5 linked regions of the Homo sapiens genome follow. The protein of the gene in region 3 purifies or fractionates together with the protein of the main gene of each other region. This does not show direct contact. Each region holds a gene or a part of one and is shown on either strand. Other genes may lie near its edges. The genes, in order: PKP2, MLLT11, ECT2L, POTEE and CHP1.

Region 1 (3,482 bases), on a different chromosome or scaffold from region 3:
TGGGGATTTTTGCAGCCGAGAATACTTTGTCATTTTCCTCAGTCTTTAAGGGAGTGGTAGGCTTTGGCAGTCCGGCTGTTGACAAAATCTGTCTTCTTAAACTGAGCCTTTGGAATAAGCAAACAGAAACGTGAAAGGTAACAAAACTGGCACACAAGAAAATGCAGTTTTTTAGCGATTTCTTCCCAGGGTCAAGTCAAGTGGGCCATTATTACCTGGCTCTGTTAACTATGACACATTCCTTGTTCATGTTCTTACCTTCTTGTAGGCATGATGCAGTTCCGTGTGTGCCCACAGAGAATACAGAAGGACGGAAGCAGCTTTACTTGCTTTGTTGGAGGCATAGCTGAAAAGAAAAGGACATTCTGAGATCAGGGAGAATGAGTGAGGCTTCTGGATGCGGCCTGTGGGTGTTCTGTAAGACCTCTTCGCTCCTCAACTGCTACTCCGCAGCAGCCATCCATGAAGTCAGGCCACTCGGTGACCAGACAATTAGGCAGCAAGCTCTGCAAGGCGGGGACCATATCTGTTTTTGTTTTCTTTTTAAACCACTAGCACAGTGCTAATAAATAAATAGTTTATAGGCCAGGTGGGGTGGCTCACGCCTGTAATCCCAGCACTTTTGGGAGGCTGAGGTGGGTAGATCACGAGGTCAGACCATCCTGGCCAACATGGTGAAACCCCGTCTGTACTAAAAATACAAAATCTAGCTGGGCGTGGCAGTGTGTGCCTGTAATCCCAGCTACTCGGGAGGCTGAGGCAGGAGAATCACTTGAACCCGGGAGGCGGAGGTTGCAGTGAGCCGAGATCACGCCACTGCACTCCAGCCTGGTGACAAAGCTAGACTCCATCTCAAAATAATAATAATAATAATAAACAAACAAGTAATTTATACAGAAAAATCCCTGATATTTATAAGGAATGTATCTTTAGATATGTTATAAATCCTTGAATTATTTATAGAATATAATCTATATTTGTATACTTATAATGTATGTTTATAGAATAAAAATGCATGAAACCATGACTGAAAAATACATACGATTTTGTGACATCATGAATGTAGGAGTAATTTTTCAAGTCAATAAAAGAAATTCTTGTGGCAGCCCTTGTTAAAGCAGTTTCAAAATCTCTTTACGTTTCCATATAGAGCAAATGGAAAACTTGTTCTTGCTATAAATCAAAGTCACCACTGCATTTGAACTGTACTTAGTCTTTCATATTCTGCTTTTTTTTTTTTTTTTTTTTTTTTGAGGCTGGAGTGCAGTGGAGCGATCTCGGCTCACTGCAACCTCCGTCTCCCAGGTTCAAGCGATTCTCCTGCCTCAGCCTCCGAAGTAGCTGGGACTACAGGCGCATGCCACCACGCCAGGCTAATTTTTTGTATTTTTAGTAGAGATGGGGTTTCACTGTGTTAGCCAGGGTGGTCTCGATCTCCTGACTTCATGATCCGCCTGCCTCGGCCTCTCATAGTGCTGGGATTACAGATGTGAGCCACTGTGCCCAGCCCATGTTCTGCTTTTAACTTTATCCTAAATGTCCCACCTCTGGCTTAGATCAGTGCCGCCTTAGATCTCTTTCTCTTCTATCACCTGATTAGCACATGGCTGATTTTTTTTCTTAAACAAAGATTCTTTTTCCCCCCATATCACAGGCATTTGTAAACATAAAACCAAAACCAGAGAGTGCAAAGATGTACGGAGAAGAGCATGGTGTGTTCCTTCAAGAGTGAAAAGTCTTTCTCCTCCATACTAGCCTGGCAGGGAGGAGCAGTCAAATCAGCACTTATTAGTAACCCCTGGACTTTTCAGAATCACTTGGTAATAACTGAAGGGCAAATAAATCCATCAAAGTGATGGGTCTCTAATATTCAAAACTGTAAAAAGTTATTAAATTGCAAGGCTGTTATATTCATAATATTTGTTTATAAGTTGGTTGTTTGATACTTGGTACTCTTTTATTCAAAGATGTAATGTTATAAATGATAATTAGTTCCCAGGCTAGTCCACAAACGGTAGGTCAGATATATAACACTCTAGTAAGGAAAGAGCAGCAGACACCACTGGCAAGAAGCTCCTTGTTAACTTTTGTTTTTGAGACAGGGCATGTGAGGACTCACAAGTGGACACTCGGAAATAAACAAGTAACAGAGTAGCTCACCCCTTATCTTGCTAAGCTACCAGAAGTTTCCAAAAGTAATTGCATATTGCCATGTGCAACAATTGTTATGTCTGAATACTCGAATAATGAGCATCATACTATCTTACGGTGATTTGCTTGGAAGTTTGGATGACTATTTGGAAGAAAAGTCATTTCTGTTTTGCAACAGTAATTCACTCTTTCCACAAAGACTGAGCAACTCTAATACTATCTGCCAGCCTCTGGGGATGGGTGAATATTCTTGGGGAACTGACACTCCAGCCAGTGCTCAGGGCTTGTTTTAATCTGACTCTAAATGCAGTCTTCCTTCCTTGTGTGCACTGCAGAGTGGGGCTGCAGAGCAGAAGGGGCCTAAATTGGGTGGGGCTGTAGTAGAGGTAACATGTACATCCCTGTACAGCCAAGCACACATTTCTTCAGTACAGGTGAAGTCATCTGCTTTGTAACTCATTAAAACTAGGCTATCATAGCCATTTCTTTTCTTGTTTGGTTATTTACAAAAGTAACATATCTATTTGTAATAAGTCAAACAATTCAGAATTGTATAAAGAGAAAAAGATAATCTTCATGCCCCTTTCCAATCTCATCACTCTAAATTAACTAATAGTAAATAATTTGGTTATACAAGGTTTTTCATTCTCCTCCTTTTTTTTTTTAATAGGGAAAAGTTGAAAACAGGAACACAGATGTGGAATGACATGCATTGGACCTTCTATTATCAAAAGGGAATAAGATGCGGAAGAGATAAGACAGAGAAAAAACTGTGAAAGCAAGACTTTCTCATCAGGCTACCCCCTGACTGCTTCTCCTGTGTCATCACTGCTGCTGCTGCTTTTTTTTTTTTTTCTTTTTTGAGACAGAATCTCACTCTGTCAACCAGGCTGGAGTGCAGTGGCACGATCACGGCTCATTGCAACCTCTGCCTCCTGGGCTCAAGTGATTCTCAAACCTCAGTCTTCCAAGTAGCTAGAATTACAGACACGCACCACCACACCCAGCTAATTTTTGTATTTTTACTAGAGACAGGGTTTTGCCATGTCGGCCAGGCTGGTCTCGAACTTCTGACCTCAAGTGATCCATCTGCTTGGGCCTCCCAAAGTGCTGGGATTACAGGCATGAGCCACTGTGCCCAGCCCATCACTGCTTCTTCTAAACCACCTGGTGTGACATCCCCTCCTAAGATGGAAGTGAGGAAAAGGGCACTTGCCTATTCAGAGGACTCCTGCTTTGCCTACATTCTGCTGTTATTAAATCACAGCTGTGGCTTTGGGAAACTAATTCATTAGGCCAATACAATGCTGGAATGCACAACCAAGAGAAGT
Region 2 (4,045 bases), on a different chromosome or scaffold from region 3:
TGGAAAAGTGCGTCACCGAGGCATGCTAGGCAGGACTATTTAACGGGGCGGAGGACTGCTGGTTACGTATCTTGCGCGTCTGAATAGTTCCAGCAGGGGACGGATCCTAGGTCTGGTGTTGGCGCCAAGAACCTGGCGAACTGCTGAGGGAGACTCGGAGCGTGCGTCAGTCATGCAGATTGCGTCTTAACTCTTGGCTGCTTCTTCGGGGTCCGGGGCGGCCAGGTTTAGTTTGACAGGAAAGCCTCGTTTCCTTATCCCAACCTCGGCTGCAGCTGTTTGGGACGTTCCTGGCTTTGTGCATTGGGTTCTGGTGCCTGATGGACACATTTTTCCAGTTACAGGCCGAATGTAAGGACCCCAGAGCCAAGCTGTCAGTGAGAACAGTGAAACAAATAACTGAGTCATTTCTTTTCTTTCTTTCTTTTTTTTTTTTGAGACGGAGTCTCGCTCTGTCGCCCAGGCTGGAGTGCAGTGGCTCGATCTCGGCTCGCTGCATGCTCCGTCTCCCGGGCTCACGCCATTCTCCTGCCTCAGCCTCCGGAGTAGCTGGGACTGCAGGCGCCCGCCACCACGCCCGGAGATTTTTTTGTATTTTTAGTGGAGACGGGGTTTCACCGTGTTAGCTAGGATGGTCTCGATCTCCTGACATCGTGATCCACCCGCCTCGGCCTCCCAAAGTGCTGGGATTACAGGCGTGACCCACCGCGCGCGGCCTTTTTTTTTTGAGACGGAGTCTCGCTTCGTCCGTCGCCCAGGCTGAAGTGCAGTGGCGTGACCTCGGTTCGCTGCAACCTCTGCCTCCCGGGTTCAAGTGATTGTCCTGCCTCAGCCTCCCCAGCAGCTGGGATTACAGGCGTCCGCCACCACGCTGGGCTAATTTTTGTATTTTTAGTAGAGATGGGGTTTTATTTTACCATGTTGGCCAGGCTGGTCTCGAACTCCTGACCTCAAGTGATTGGCCCGCCTCGGCCTCCCGAAGTGCTGGGATTACAGGCGTGAGCCACCGCGCCCGGCCTGAGTCATTTCTTTTTGGAGGCCTGCAAGAGGATGGAGCATGAGTTTGCAAATCCATTTAGTCACTTTATTTACCAAACAGTTGATCCCTGTCTCCACCCACCAATTGCCATGGCTGAAGGACTCTGAAGGGGCCCTTCAAAACTCAGTAAAAATAGAAAAGGACGCACTACTTATCCTTCCTGGCCCCATTCTTCGTTAGACTGGGACCGTCTTTAGATGTGGGCTTTTCATGGCCTAGAGGGAGGATTTGTCTTTTTTTCTCCCACCTGGGGACTTCTCTAGATCATCCTTATTTAGGGTATAGTGTCATCCTTATTTATAGTACACTGCCCAATTCTGTCCTATCCATATTGGTATTTACAGTTTCTCTTTTGAGAGTTGGAGTCTTGTCTCATTCCCGTTTACATTCTGTTTGGCTCAGTGCTTTCCTATAGCAGGCACACAAAAACCAGAAGTTAAGCAGATAACATATTTGAGTGAATTCGTTTATCTTCTTAGGCACCTAGGAGAATTATTACCTGAAATATAATGTTGGTAGTCAGTGGGCAAGCAGAAGAGTGGTTGTACCTGTCTCCCTAACTACTTTTCTAATTTTAAGTTGATTTTGCCCTTTCATTATCTGTTCAATGCGAAGTTCACCATCTAATGTCTAAATGCTACTCAAATCATTCTTCCTCTAAGTTGAATATTATTATAGAAAGATAAAATGAGGCCGGGCTCAGTGGCTCACGCCTGTAATCTCAGCACTTTGAGAGGCTAAGGCGGGCAGATCACCTGAGGTCAGGAGTTAGAGACCAGCCTGGCCAACATGGTGAAACCCCGTCTCTATGAAAAATACAAAAATTAACCAGGCCTGGTGGCAGGCGCCTGTAATCCCAGCTACCTGGGAGCCTGAGGTGGGAGGATCCCTTGACCCTGGTGGGTGGAGGTTGCAGTGAGCGGTGATCCCCGCCACTGCACTCCAGCCTGGGTGACAGAGTGGGACCCTGTCTCAAAAATAAAAAAGAAAAAAAAGATGTATAAGCTAAGTGTGAAAGCAAGGCTAATTTCTCAGATTTCTGTGGCTTTTCTTGTGAAGAGAGAAAATTAGACTCCAGTCCTGGGATTGAATGTCTTTATTAAATAAACGAGTAAATGGTAGCACAAATCACCATCAATATTTTTGGAAGGATTGGGGACAAGATGTCGAGTCAGAATATAATTGTTCATTTCAGGGTCTCAATGTAGCTGAAGAACTGTGCCCACTGATCAGTATTACGTATTGCAAATGCAGGAGGTAAGGCTAAAATAGGACTTATGCCGTTCAGAAGATTGAATTGAAACCTTAAAAACTATCATAATAGTAGGAATGCATGTTAAGATTTGATAACTTTCTTTAGCTAGAGTTTTCAACCCACAGTTAGGAGCAAAGTTGTAAAGTGAGTAGGTGTGAAGAAGGGACACTCTTTTGAGAAAAGAAATTAGCTACTTCTAAAATGATTCAATTATTTTCCCTATTTTCATTTTCCATAATATTTCCTCCTGTTTTATACCTCTAACTACCCTCCTGATTTCTCTGAGGAAAAAAAAGAATATAAGAGCAGGATCAAAAAAAAGCAAGAGACTTATCACTTTAGCCTTTTAGAAATACTGTTTCGTAGCAGATAACCTCAAATTAAAACTTCCGAGGTTTTCATCACCCCTTGAAGAAATATTTGTGTTTACTGCCCTGGAGCAGGAAATTAGGAAGGTTTAAGGAATCTCTGAAGCTGATTATAATAGAGTCAAAAATCAGTCTTCCATTTTGCACTACTATACTACTCTCAGGTGTCCCCAGTCAGGCCTAGTTTCTGGAGTTAATATTTGGGGGGGAAAGGAGGAATCCCTGTGACCCAGTACTCCATTGCTTGAACCATTTACTTTGTGACTTGAGGGCTTTTGAGAGAAATGGAGTAGACAGATAGATAAATAAATACATAGAACTCAACTCTGGCAGATTCATCAGCACCACCAACACAGTAGGGAGAGAACAAGATTAAAATGGGAAAGGAGTGGAAAGGAAGGGGCTTGAGAGGGAAGACAATGAGGGCAAGGTGATGGGAGAGAGAAGTCTTGGCCTTAGAGCAAGTCCAGTTCGAAGGAGTGGATGCTGGCAATGGGAGCTCTCCAGAAGTTGAAGGTGCTGTACTCAAGGAGGCCATCACCTTCAGGGTTTTTCTCCTGGTCTGCTGCAGTTGCTTGCCCGATCATTTTGCCAACGCTGCTGTCTTTGACCTTGTAGGTGGCTGTATCTGACAGACCCAGGCCTTCCAGCTCCGACAGATCCAGTTCTGGGATGGGCATCCTCCAGAAAAGAAAGGAACTGTACTGGCTACTCACAGGGTCCCTCATAGCTTCCTAGAAAGAAACCACTTGTCAGTCTTCATGCTACAGCAACTTCTTTGTGGCCCATGGCCTTTCCTTGCTTAGATACTCCACATACTGGTAAAAAGGAATTTCTTTTTTTTTTTTTTTTCTATTAAAGAAAGAAAATTGTATATCCTCCAATCCCACCAGTAAAAAGGAATTTGGGGAGGAAAAAAAAGAAACTCACCATCCCCAATTGCCTCTGGAGAGAATCCAAGTTCCCTTGGACAAGCTTCAGAAACCCTTTATTATGAATTTCTACTTTTTTTTTTTTTTTCTCTCAATGAGACGGAGTCTTGCTCTGTCGCCCAGGCTGGAGTGCAGTGGCACGATCTTGGCTCACTGCAAGCTCCACCTCCTGGGCTCACACCATTCTCCTGCCTCAGCCTCCCGAGTATCTGGGACTACAGGTGCCCACCACCACGCCCGGCCAATGTTTTGTATTTTTTAGTAGAGACGGGGTTTCACCATGTTAGCCAGGATGGTCTCGATCTCCTGACCTCGTGATCTGCCTGCTTCGGCCTCCCAAAGTGCTGGGATTACAGGTGTGAGCCACCGCGCCCGGCCGAATTTCTACTATTTTCTAAACTTCCCATCTTGGAATGACTTATTTACCATCTATTGCATCAAATTGATCTTG
Region 3 (4,221 bases):
TGGTGTGATCTCAGCTCACTGCAACCTCCGCCTCCTGGGTTCAAGCAATTCTCCTGCCTCAGCCTCCCGAGTAGCTGGGACTACAGGTGCATGCCACCATGCCCAGCTAATTTTTGTGTTTTTGGTAGAGACGGGGTTTCACCATGTTGGCCAGAATGTTCTCGATCTCTTGACCTTGTGATCCACCCACCTCAGCCTCCCAAAGTGCTGGGATTACAGGCATGAGCCACCTTGCCCAGCCTCTTGTTTTATTTTTTAATGCAGAGGTGAAAATCATACACTGGCCTAAAGAAATTCCATACCCTGATGTTGTGTGTGCTATGTTTATATGGAGAGAGAAATTAATTTTTATTGCTGGTACTAGATAATTTTTTTCTTTTATTTGCATATTTCAAAAGCTATAAAATGAGCATCTTTATACCAGAAAATTTATAATATCTAAATTTCAAAAACATAATGTCCTTCAATTTTAGCCTAGAATTATTATTTTCCCTCCAGCCCTAAGTATACCCCACACTGCCCCCAATAAAATATGACAATACTGCTTCTGCCACTTGTGCTGCTTGCGGACCTGAGGTGACTCCAGCACTCAGCATGGTGAACAGAAAGCTCAAGGAAGGGTCAGAACTGCTCATATTAATTTTAGGGTGGTGGGCAGGATGGTTCCTTGGTGCAATTTAAGATTAACAGGCATACACCACTTAGTAAACTAATGAAAGCCTATTGTGAATAGCAAGGCTTGTCAATGAGGCGGATCAGATTCCAATTTGTCAGATGGCCAATCAATGAAACAGACACACCTGCAGAGTTGGAAGTGGAGGTTAAAGATACAATTGATGTGTTTCAGCAGCAGGCAGGAGGGGTCCAGTAAAAAGAGAACTTGCTATTTTACGCCAGAGGCTATTCTTACAGACCAAGACTGCATTCTCAACTAAAAAACTGCAATCTGGTTCCACTACATCCTAACTATTACAGTATAGTTTGCTCTATTCTTTCATTTCCTTCCCCATTCCTTTATTGTACATAAGGTAACTGATGAATATGCACAAGCATTTTTAAAAAAATTAGTGGCTAATGGTATGGCTAATGTATTCGTGGCTAATGGTATACCATCAACATCAAATGGAGATGAGAAGGGGAAAAATGCTTCTGTGAAAAGACCTCCTTGGCCACGTGCGGTGGCTCATGCCTGTAATCCCAGCACCTTGGGAGGCTGAGGCGGGTGGATCACCTGAGCTCAGGAGTTCGAGACCAGCCTGACCAACATGGCAAAACTCTGTCTCTACTAAAAATACAAAAATTAGCTGGGTGTGGTAGCACATGCCTGTAATCCCAGCTACTCAGGAGGCTGAGGCAGTAGAATCACTGGAACCTGGGAGGCAGAGGTTGCAGTGAGCCGAGGTCATGCCACCGCACTCCAGCCTGGGCAACAGAGCGAGACTCCATCTCAAAAAACAAAAACAAAAACAAAAGGACCTCCTTTCTCCCTTCGTGGCATGCTCATTCAGCAGTTATCTTTATATTCCAATCTGTTATCTTGCTCTCATTGTTTTAACAACAGCAATATATGTATATATGTATGTGTGTGTGTGTGTGTGTGTGTGTGTATATATATATGTATCTAAATCCTTGCATACCTTGTTCAATTGGAGAATTCTCATGTTTTTCATTTATCATTGTAACACAAAGGGCACATTTTATAACGTTTTCGTACATACCTCTTATATGTAGGGCAATCTGTCTTTAAGTGAGGATCCATTAGTTGATAAAAATGATTACCAGATAGTTTTTCCTTCAAGTCAAACACCTTGTTGTTTAAATAAGTGCCTTGTTTAAAATGAAAAAATGTGTAATGCTATGTGATCTTCACCAAGATGAGTTAACCATAATTTCATTAACTGGAATTATAATGTAAAAAAACTTAAGAGAAAAATGAGAGAACTCACTGTATTTGAAATATTATAAACACACTCTTCTTTTTTTACATTTTTTATTTTGAGACAGGGTCTCCCTCTGTCACCCAGGCTGAAGTGCAGTAGTGCACTCATGGCTCACTGCAGCCTCGACCTCCCGGGCTCAAGCAATCCTCCTGCCTCAGCCACCAGAGTAGCCACCACAACAGGCTAATTTTTGTAATTTTTTTGTAGAGACAGGGTTTTTCTATGTTGCCCAGGCTGGTCTCAAACTCCTCTGCTTAAGCGATGCACCTGCCTTGGCCTCCGAAAGTGCTGGGATTACAAACATGAGCTGCCAAACTCTTCTTGTTTATTTTCCAAACACATGGTCTGTCTAGAATACCTATTTAGACATATCTAATAAGGTAAAAAATACATCTGCATCCTACTTGGCAGTTGGCTTACAGTCCATATTATTTTTTTAATATTATATGTGTATTTCTGTATGTATATATTTTTACATATTGGAGTTATCCAACATTTATAATCATTTTGAACTAAGGTTTTCATTGTCAAACCTTGTGTTGTTATCTTGAAACCACTATGAGGTATTATTACTAATAGTCAGATGAGATACCCTCATATCCACTGCTCTATGGAACATGCTCCTCCTGGGTGTTCCTAGGGATGGGTTTGGGGCAAGTGGGCATCCATGTCCTGGGGCTCCACGGCCTGCACTGTCTGCAGCCAGGGTGTCTGGGGCTGGGAAAGAGCCCCAGGTCTGAGCTCAGGGCTGCAGGACTTAAGATTTTTCTTGCCCAATTGTCTGGCCTTAGGGAAGTCATTTGACTTTTTTCCCCCATGTAACTTTTCTTAACTCTAGTTCTTTATCTATAAAATGTGGCTAGGGATGTGTCCTTTATAGGATTCTGAGAATGAAAGGTGATAATAAGTGTGTTTGTGTGTTGAAGAAAACAAAACAGTGTGCCCATGCCGTGGGTTACACAGGACGAGACCGGCCCCTGCTGAGGCTGCAGCTTCCTCCACACTTTACCCTTGACACAGAAAGACGGAGCCCTAGACATTGTGTTCATTAGATTCAACTTTTGAAGTCAGACTGTAAGTTGGTAGATTAATTAGAAACTGTGAGCCTTTGTCCATGTGCCATTTCTTTAAAAGACATCCTAGTACCATAAAGGAAAGTCAGGGAGTAACATACAGATTGGTTTTGCTCCAAGATGTTACACTGCTATCCTTCTGGCTCAACTTCTTTTCAGTCTGGGGCTTATTTGAAAAAAAAGTCTGCCAGCTGAATTCTCTCTAATAATTTTTGAGGTTTTTTTTTTTTAATCCCCCAAAGGGAAATTTTCAAGGAAAATGAAGAACTAACCAGAATAAAGGCTGAAATTTCACTATCAGGAGCAAAACCAATGGTAAAGTTACATTATATAATAGCTTACCAGATTAATCAGTGCTTCAAAATTTAAATCATTTTTGCTGAGCCTGGACTTTGTGTCCCAAGAATTGTCTTCTACAACATTTCTTTCCTGAAGATTGAATGGAAACTTGGTTATTGGAGGCAGGTCTTGACATCTCTGAAAACTCAGTACTGTGCCCGCAGGAGGCCCTCAGAAGCCTCTGCCTTCAGCCCCAACCACAGTGTTCCCTACACACAATGAGTTAAGTGCTTGCAAATGGGATGCCACTCTTACATTCAATTTTATGTTTTTTAAAAATAGCCTTTGCTTCTTTTGAACTACATAATACTTGAGAACTAAATCCAGCGTAGCTCCCTCTTCCTTGGGAGCCAGGGAAGTGATGCTGGGCTGGGGCTCCTCCCAGGCTTAAAGACTCACACACATTCCTGGGTAACAGACTTCTTTTTTTTTTTTTCTTTTTCTTGAGATGGAGTCTCACTCTCGCCCAGGCTGGAGTGCAATGGCACAATCTCGGCTCACTGCAACCTCCGCCTCCCAGGTTCAAGCGATTCTCCTGCCTCAGCCTCCTGAGTAGCAGGCTTACAGGGCCCACTACCACGCCCCACTAATTTTTGTATTTTTAGTAGAGATGGGGTTTCACCATGTTGGCCAGGCTGGTCTGGAACTCCTGACCTCAGGTAATCTGCCCGCCTTGGCCTCCCAAAGTGCTGGGATTACAGGCATGAGCCACCAAGTCTGGCCAGGTAACAGGTTTTTGCCTCAGCTCTGCTCTGTTCCTTCTCAGTTGAGGGCAAATAGGTTATTTTTATTTTTAAGATCCAGAAGGAAAAGCTCACAAAACTCACTCCTTTTTTCACCACCAAGTGAAAATGTGTCATAAACAGTTC
Region 4 (4,221 bases), on a different chromosome or scaffold from region 3:
AATATGATTCAATCATTGATGTTACTTTCTTTATCATGTTAGGGTGTTGTAAAAATAAAAGAACAAACAAAGTTCTGAAATTTGTTTTTGCCTCTATTCCAAAAGGAGAGATTAGCTATAAGCTAATCAAGAAGGCAGATAAGAATATTTTAAAATAAGAGTATTTTAAATTTTATAGTGGGTTATGTTGAAGTTAAATATCAAATATTAAATTAGAATCTATTGATTCTTCTGTTAATAAGGTTGCTGATTTTATTACAATAAATTTTAAGAATCTATTAAAATTTTTTTTTTTTTTTTTCACATGGAGTCTCGCTCTGTCACCCAGGCTGGAGTGTAGTGGTGGATGTCGGCTCACTGCAAGCTCCCTCTCCTGGGTTCATGCCATTCTCCTGCCTCAGCCTCCCGAGTAGCTGGGACTACAGGCACCCACCACCACGCCCAGCTAAGTTTTTGTATTTTTACTAGAGACGGGGTTTCACCATGTTAGCCAGGATGGTCTCGATCTCCAGACCTCGTGATCCACCTGCCTCAGCCTCTCAAAGTGCTGGGATTACAGGCGTGAGCCACCTTGCCTGGCCAAAAGATTCTTAAAAAAACAATCTACTGATTCTCAAAGCCTAGTCTGAAAGGTAATTTCATTTGGACTATCTAATATTATTAAGGCAAAAAAAACACAACATTAAACAAAAGTTTAAATTTAAAAGTTTCCATGCCTCTGGCTGGCCATTTTCACTGCCTTTAAGCCTTTGTGACTCTTCCTCTGATGTCAGCTTTAAGTCTTGTTCTGTTGAAAAATCCATACATTCAGTTAAAATCAACCACTTAAAACAGTTAAAAACTATTGCCTTTTAAAAACAGATTTGAGACATTTCATTTTATTTCATAAATTGAGTGTTTCATCTTTTGTGAAATTGTCATTTAAGAAATAATTCTCAAAAACTTCAAAAACCCACTTGGGGAGATAGCAGATGTCACCAGATTGAAGACAAACAAACATGTCAAAAATTCCCTCACAAATTCATCCACCCAACATCCATGAACAAAACCACCAGAAACACAGCTTTAAAATACAGTAGAAACATATAAGGTGACACAGTGTACTGTTCTCCACTTCCTAATAGTACCTTATAAATGATTTCCAAAATCACTGCTGACACCTTTATTAGTGTACAACATCTTCCTAATATCTAAAATGTTTCTCTCCACTATTCTGACAAATTTATTTTCTTTTTTTCTTTTTTCTTTTTTTTTTTTTATGAGCTAGAGTCTTCCTCTGTCACCAGGCTGGAATGCAGTGGTGTGATCAGCTCACTGCAACCTCCGCGACCCTGGTTCAAGTGATTCTCCTGCTTCAGTCTCCTGAGTAACTGTGATTACAGGCAAGCACCACCACACCCAGCTGATTTTTGTATTTTTAGTAGAGATGGGGTTTCACCATTGGACAGGATGGTCTCGATCTCCTGACCTCGTGATTCCCTCTGAAAGTGCTGGGATTACAGGTGTGAGCCACCACACCTGGCCTTATTTTCATCTTTTGAAACAATGCTATATGAAGTTTTCCTTGATTCTGCATGTCTTTCCCCAAATAAACAGGTACCTCCTTCCTTGAGGCTGCCTTAGTACTTTACTGATTTTTCTACTGCATCTTGACCACCTAAACTGTACATTATTCCTCCACGTCTGTCCCCTCTGCTCCAAGACTGCAGGGGAGAGTCTTGCACATCATCTTTGTAAAAACAGTCTTTGTTTTACTCAGAAATATTTTATTGAGTCCTGCTAAATACATGCTAGGCATTAGGGTTTAAAAAGAATTAAAATAAAGCATGTCAGAGATGGCTTTTCTAGAACACATGCCCAAGCAGAGACTTAAATATTGAGACTAGCCAGATTAAAAGGTGTAGAGGGCAGGAAAGGGTGACGGCATGCCACGCAGCAGCAAGAGCGGGAGCGACTCCTGAAAGAGTGAAAGTATTTGCCTACAATAGAAGGATGAGTGAGTAGGGCACTGCCAGCAGTTCAGTAATGCCAGAGACAGGGCACACAGGGAAAAGGGCTAAAGATGGAGAGTGGGGCAGAAGTCAGATTATGAAAGCATTATGTGTAATTTTAAGATGCTTGAACATTAATGTTCAAAAGTGGTCCCGGGTCCTATCTGCATTTAGATATAGATCATTTCAATGCCAAAACCAATATTCCTAGTGAACAATTATTCATTAAGACAAGGTGACAGATAGCTCATGTGGACACAGCTGAGATGATACAATGTAGCAAATTCTAAACAATTCTCATGAACACTTGGAAAGTCAGTTCTATAATAAAGTCATACAAATTATAATAAATCAGTAAATATTTGGTTTCGGAAGATGCTTTGTAAAGTTATAATGCATATGAATACAATTAACAGTCGTGAATTCAGAGCTGTGAAAATAAATCAAAGAAACCACATTGTGTTTGAGTCAGCAATCTTTAGATTTCTATCCAGTCTTCCCATCCAGTCCATAAATTCTAAGTATAATCCTGGTACTCACTCTCAAGTTTACGTTAAATACTATCCCATTACAAAAAAACACTCTTTCTCTTACTTCTTTTCATTATGTCCTGCTAAAAAGATTCTGATTGGCTGCAGGCGGCAAGAGGGAAAAACACAAAGCACATTTTGCAGAAAATGATTATTTAGAAGTCAGAACTATGACATGAAGCCAAGCAGGGCACTCTAGGACCGAATTTGCTGTGCTGCCTTCATACGCTCCTTGCTCTTTCTTTTCTGGCAGCTGTGACTCACACAGGTCATGGAGAGTATCATTCCCTAAGAGGAACAACTCCGATATTCATCTTTATCTATTAAGTTCATCTGTCCCAATTCTGTGTTCTGTGGATGCTGACTTTCTGTCACGGACGATGATGCACATGGACATTTATTACTGACTTTCAGATTCTTGGATCTTTGACAAGTCTTATTACTTAGAGTCAAACTAGTAGGATGCGAGTTATAAATGCTGATTATCCAATTACCTACTCAAAATACCCTACACGAATATTCCATTAAACATGCATCGAAAAACATTAGTCATTCCTGCTGACCTGCTGCTCTTTGCTCTTCTGTATTCACCAGAAAATTTCCTACTCCTTCCTCATGTCCAGGTTAAATACTAGTGTGCAATCTGGAAACCTGTACATCATCTGAGATTTCTCTCTGTCCCCCAAGCCTTTCTCATTCAATTATCACTAAATCATATTGACTATACCTCTCTTCTGCCTCTGTTTTATATTCCCACTGCCACTGGGAACACAAACATTTACAAAATGACTTCTATTTAAAAGAAAACTGCCAACTATTAATGTTATTTCTTACAGGAAAAAAAATTAAGCAAAACAAGTGAAAAGGGCATAACGAAGGCCAACATAGTAAAATGAGTAACTGAGATTTCTAACGTTATTTATTTCACCATGGACGGGTGAAAACCTTGTAATACATTGATGCTACTCCAAGGATGTGTGACATGGAAACTATAGCTGACTACTGCAAAAGCTTCCTTTGTCTCCTGGTTTCTTTGCATGATTATCTCCCATCAATCCCAGGAAACTATAGGCCACAGGCCAAATCCAATCTGCATTATGGTTTTGTAAATAAAGTTTTATAGGAGCTCAGTCATGCCTGTTTGCTTACATATAATCATGGTGGCTTTCACACTACAACAGCAGACAACAGCACGGTTAAGTAGATATGACAGAGACCACATAGTCCAAAATATTTCCCACCTGGTCCTTTAAAGAAAAAGCTTGCTAACCCATTTTACACCATAACCAGAATGCCTTAATACTCAAATTTAATCTTGTGGCTCCCCTGCTCAAATTTCTCCAATGAGCCCCCTCCAGCACACATTGTTGGCTCCCTATCAATAGCCATTCCTCATTCTTTCTGGCAGAAAAAACATAAGTCTATTGGGATATTTAATATCCCAATCCCCCTCCTCAGCCTCAGAAAGAAATGTTTATTCTAAGCTAATCAGATATTTACCTTCCCAGTGCCTGGTTTGGGAATGAGCATGTGGTATGACCCAGCCAATGAAATGTTACAGGAAGCCCCTTGCATGCTTCTAAGTTTTCTCCCTGTTTAAAAGACACATGTGAAGAAAAGCAGCCCTTTCGATGTTGTGTTGTGAAAACAAGATGTTTGGAGCTGCTGCAGATTAGCCAACCACAAAAGGAGACGTGAAT
Region 5 (4,221 bases), on a different chromosome or scaffold from region 3:
GAGAGAAAGGAAAAAATGAAAGAGGGCATAAGATTCCTCATAGTCAACGTGATTTGATTCCCATCTTTACATGAACTAACTGCCCGACCTAATTCCCCTTCTGACTTTCACTCACATTTCCTGAATGCCCAACCCTCTCAACTAGCAAATTCCTTTGCTCTCAATTTAGAGTTCTAAAATTTCCTCTCCAGGCATTTTATCTGACAGTGTCCTCATTGACAGTCTCATTATTAAAAACTGGCACCCATATAATATTTTGAAGTCCTGTGGGTCATAGACTATCCATATAAACCAGGAATAGATTGTTTAGGAAATTACTTAAAACAAGCTTATATGTAAGTTTTATTGTTGAAAAGGTACCTAATCAAATCAGTAAATATTTACTCACTACTGTGAAGGCAGTGTATTAGGTAGTAAAGCATATCAAAAGACTAGTTTCATGTTAGAAAAACCCACATTAAGAACAATCTACTTGACAAAGCATATGTGGTGAGAACTATGTTTATTCAATATCACGAAAGTAAAATAAAGGCTGGGGAAATGTTCCAGATTAAAGGAGGCTAAAGAGACATGACAACTGACCCAGACTAGATCCTGTACTGGAGGCGGGGAAGTGCTATAAAACAGATTATTGGATGACAAAATTGGAATATGAATATAAATTAGAATAAACTGGATAATATGTTAATAAAACAGAGTAATAGATTAGATAAGAGGATTGTATCAATGTTAAGTTTACTGAAGTAGATAACTATACTATGGATATGTAAAAGAATGTCCCTATTCTTAGCAAACACACACTGGTGCATTCAGAGGTAAAGGGTCATTACTATGCAACTTACCCTGAAATAGTTCAGAAATACAATTATGTGAACACACATACACAAAAAAATTACATAAGTATGTGTATATACATACATGTATGTATGTGTATGTATGTACGTACATGTAGGCATGTATGTATGTATATACACACACACGTAGAGTATGTGTAGGTAGAGAGAGGGGAAAGAGAGAGGGAAAAAGTGTCTGCAAGAGAGGGTATGTAGAGTAAGCACGGGTGTACAAGCTGCGCTGTTCAATACTGCAGTCACTTGTCACATCTGGTTATGTGCACTGAAAACATGGTCAGTCTGACTTGATATGTGTTTAAGTGTAAATTACACACTGGATTTCAAGGACTTATTATGAAAAAATGTAGGCTGGGCATGGTGGCTCACGCCAGTAATCCCAGTACTTTGGGAGGCTGAGGCAGGCGGATCACCTGAGGTCAGGAGCTCAAGACCAGCCTGGCCAACATGGTGAAACCCTGTCTCTACTAAAAATACAAAAATTAGCCAGGTATGGTGGCATGTGGCTGTAATCCCAACTATCTCGGAGGCTGAGGCAGGAGAATCGCTTGAACCCGGGAGGCAGAGGTTGCAGTGAGCCGAGATGGCACCACTGTACTCCAGCCTGAGCGACCGAGCAAGACTCTGTCTTAAAACAAACAAACAAACGAAAAAAGGATCTCAGTTATTTTTAATATTGATTATATATGGAAATAATATTTTAAATATATTAAATAAAATATATATTACCAAAGTTAACTTATTTTTACTTTTTAAATGTGGTTACTAGAAAATGTAAAATTACGTATGTGGCTTGCATTATATTTTTATTGGCTACTACTAAGAAGAGAGCACACAAATGAGGCAAAATGTTAACAATATAACAGTAGATGCATCAGGGCAATAAATATACAAGTATTCTCCGAATTACTTTTAACTTTTGCAACTTTTTTGTAAATTTGAAATTATTTCCAAATAAACATTTTTTAAAAGTCTAGTTTTACATCAATGATAAACATAAGAATTTTGAAGATAGGCTCATATATCTATTTGAAGTTTAAAACACACAGGAGGGTAGAACAGAAGAGATATTCTAGAAATGACAAAATTAGAATTGCTCAATATAATCAGGGGGTATCACAGTCTGAGATGGCACAACCAATATCATTATTCCAGATTAGCAAATAATTTAGGTTGTGATAGCCTCAGGAAGGAAGTCCAACAACTGTACTGACTCACCCCTCTGGAAAGAAGGCATTGATGATCCGGTCCCCCAGTGGGTTGATGGCAAGTTCTGGAATCCTCTGGAAATCTTCCCGGCTGCCAAGAGAATCACCTTGAGTTAGATAGAGATCATTGCCCTTAGCATGAACTCCTTAAGTCAGGAGGTAACAGGGTGTAACCTAGCAAGAATATTACCTCCTGGAATTTACTTCTGTGGCAAATTATACCAAATAACTGCAAAGAATAGCACTTTAATAGCTGCCAAGTGTTTCTTGCACCAACTCAGAAGTGGAAGGAGCCAGATTTGATTACGCCACATTCCAGTGAATTTAGCACACAGGTTACGTCAATAAGCCAACTGATGGACAAATACTAAGCTGTCCCTTAGTAAATGATTTCTTGAACATTAGCATTGCGTACCTAGTTATTAAGTTTGGAAAGTGAACAGCAAATGGAAAGTATCAAATACTGCAGAACTTGAATATGGGGACAAACACTTAGAGGGGTCTCCATATCCTTGTTAAGATTTTTAGGCACTTACAAAATGCAAGGAATTCTTAGGTGCTATTTACATGCAAGGAAATAATGTGACAACCAATTGATTTCCTTGTTCTGACTCTGGCTTTTTCTCCATTTCCATGTTCTGTGGACTAGGGCTACAGAAGTATTTAACCCTCAAACATGACAAGAGCAGTCATCCTCACATGACTTAGGCGAGGTTATACCAAAGCGAATATTGTCAGTTACCATTCATCACATATATATCATGTGCTGCTCTGTTTACATACATTATTCTCATTTCTTCACGCCAATGTTTTATGTATACCCTTTTAGAGCTGAGGAAATTGAGAGTCAGGAAGATAAAGTAACTTGCCCAAAGCCACACTACTCCTAAGTAGCAGAACTGTGATTTAAATCTAAGTCTGTAAGTCAAAGTATGTGTTCTTTTTCTAAAAACCATATTTCTTTCCTATATTGAACTTTTTTTTGAGACAGAGTCTTGCTCAGTCACCCAGGCTGGAATGCAATGGCATGGTCTTGGCTCACTGCCACCTCCACTTCCCAGGTTCAAGCGATTCTCCTGCCTCAGCCTCCCAAGTAGCTGGGATTACAGGCACTCTCCACCACGCCTGGCTAGTTTTTTGTACATTTAGTAGAGACGGAGTTTCACCATGTTGGCCAGGCTGGTCTTGAACTCCTGACCTCAGGTGATCTGCCGGCCTCGGCCTCCCAAAGTGCTGGGTGGGATTACAGGAGTGAGCCACGGTGCCCAGCCCTAATATTGAACCTTTTGAATGAAAGTTACTCTCCCCCAAATTCTTTATTTTTATTTTTTTGAGATGGAGTTTCGCTCCCAGGCTGGAGTGTAGTGGCTTGATCTCTGGGTTCACTGCAACCTCCTCCTCCCGGGTTCAAGCGATTCTACTGCTTCAGTCTCCCAAGTAGCTAGCATTACAAGCGGGTGCTACCATGCCCGGCCAATTTTTGTATTTTTAGTAGAGGTGGGGTTTTACCACATTGGCCAGGCTGGTCTTGAACTCCTGACCTCAGGTGATCCACCCACCTCAGCCTCCCAAAGTCCTGGGATTACAGGCGTGAGCCACCGCACCCAGTCCCCCAATTTTTCAATAAGTATTTTTTAAAAACTTTCTTTTGTTGGTTCCTGGGCCAAGAATACAAAGCTGTCTACAACTTATCTGTGCTGCAGTCTTCAAAAATATCAATGTCATGGAGGACAAAGAAAAGCAGAGGATTGTTCCAGATCAAGGGGGGGCTAAAGAGACACACAACAAAACCCAACACATGATCCCGGACTAGGAAAAAAACTGCTATAAGGACATTATTGGATAATATGTGAAAATGAAGCATGGACCATATAAAATATGGAATATTACATAATGGTACTGTTTCAAAATGCAACTTTCTTGATTTTGATCTGAGAATGTCCTTTCTATAGGAAATAAACAGTGAAGTATGTGACAAAATGTTAACAATTGGTGAATCTGGGTATCAGAATAAAAGTTATCTTGTATTGTTCTTGTAACTTCAAGTTTAAAATTATTTCCAGATAAAAAGTTAAAAAAAAGATTATAAACTAGATTTTACTCCTGCCTTCAAGAAGTTTACTTACAGACAGATAAAATGTATACCTCCACCCTCTTTGTAA

The links.
Region 1: the proteins of ECT2L (region 3) and PKP2 purify together in Homo sapiens (affinity purification with mass spectrometry; one large-scale study listed by BioGRID and IntAct). This does not show direct contact.
Region 2: the proteins of ECT2L (region 3) and MLLT11 purify together in Homo sapiens (affinity purification with mass spectrometry; one large-scale study listed by BioGRID and IntAct). This does not show direct contact.
Region 4: the proteins of ECT2L (region 3) and POTEE purify together in Homo sapiens (affinity purification with mass spectrometry, with the first as the bait; one large-scale study listed by BioGRID). This does not show direct contact.
Region 5: the proteins of ECT2L (region 3) and CHP1 purify together in Homo sapiens (affinity purification with mass spectrometry; one large-scale study listed by BioGRID and IntAct). This does not show direct contact.

The regions. Positions count from the first base shown.
Region 1 is NC_000012.12:32,792,386-32,795,867, forward strand, and holds part of PKP2 (plakophilin-2), read right to left. Parts: intron 347-3,482; coding exon 259-346; intron 108-258; coding exon 39-107; coding exon of another isoform or gene 1-38. UniProt on the Homo sapiens protein: A component of desmosome cell-cell junctions which are required for positive regulation of cellular adhesion.
Region 2 is NC_000001.11:151,066,570-151,070,614, reverse strand, and holds the end of MLLT11 (protein AF1q), read right to left. Parts: intron 3,397-4,045; 5' UTR 3,391-3,396; coding exon 3,118-3,390; 3' UTR 1,071-3,117; downstream 1-1,070. UniProt on the Homo sapiens protein: Cofactor for the transcription factor TCF7. Involved in regulation of lymphoid development by driving multipotent hematopoietic progenitor cells towards a T cell fate.
Region 3 is NC_000006.12:138,875,693-138,879,913, reverse strand, and holds part of ECT2L (epithelial cell-transforming sequence 2 oncogene-like), read right to left. Parts: intron 3,443-4,221; coding exon 3,356-3,442; coding exon of another isoform or gene 3,335-3,355; exon of another isoform or gene 3,316-3,334; intron 1-3,315.
Region 4 is NC_000002.12:131,247,344-131,251,564, reverse strand, and holds part of POTEE (POTE ankyrin domain family member E), read right to left. Parts: intron 788-4,221; coding exon 717-787; intron 1-716.
Region 5 is NC_000015.10:41,254,839-41,259,059, reverse strand, and holds part of CHP1 (calcineurin B homologous protein 1), read right to left. Parts: intron 2,361-4,221; exon of another isoform or gene 2,250-2,360; intron 2,151-2,249; coding exon 2,070-2,150; intron 1-2,069. UniProt on the Homo sapiens protein: Calcium-binding protein involved in different processes such as regulation of vesicular trafficking, plasma membrane Na(+)/H(+) exchanger and gene transcription. Involved in the constitutive exocytic membrane traffic.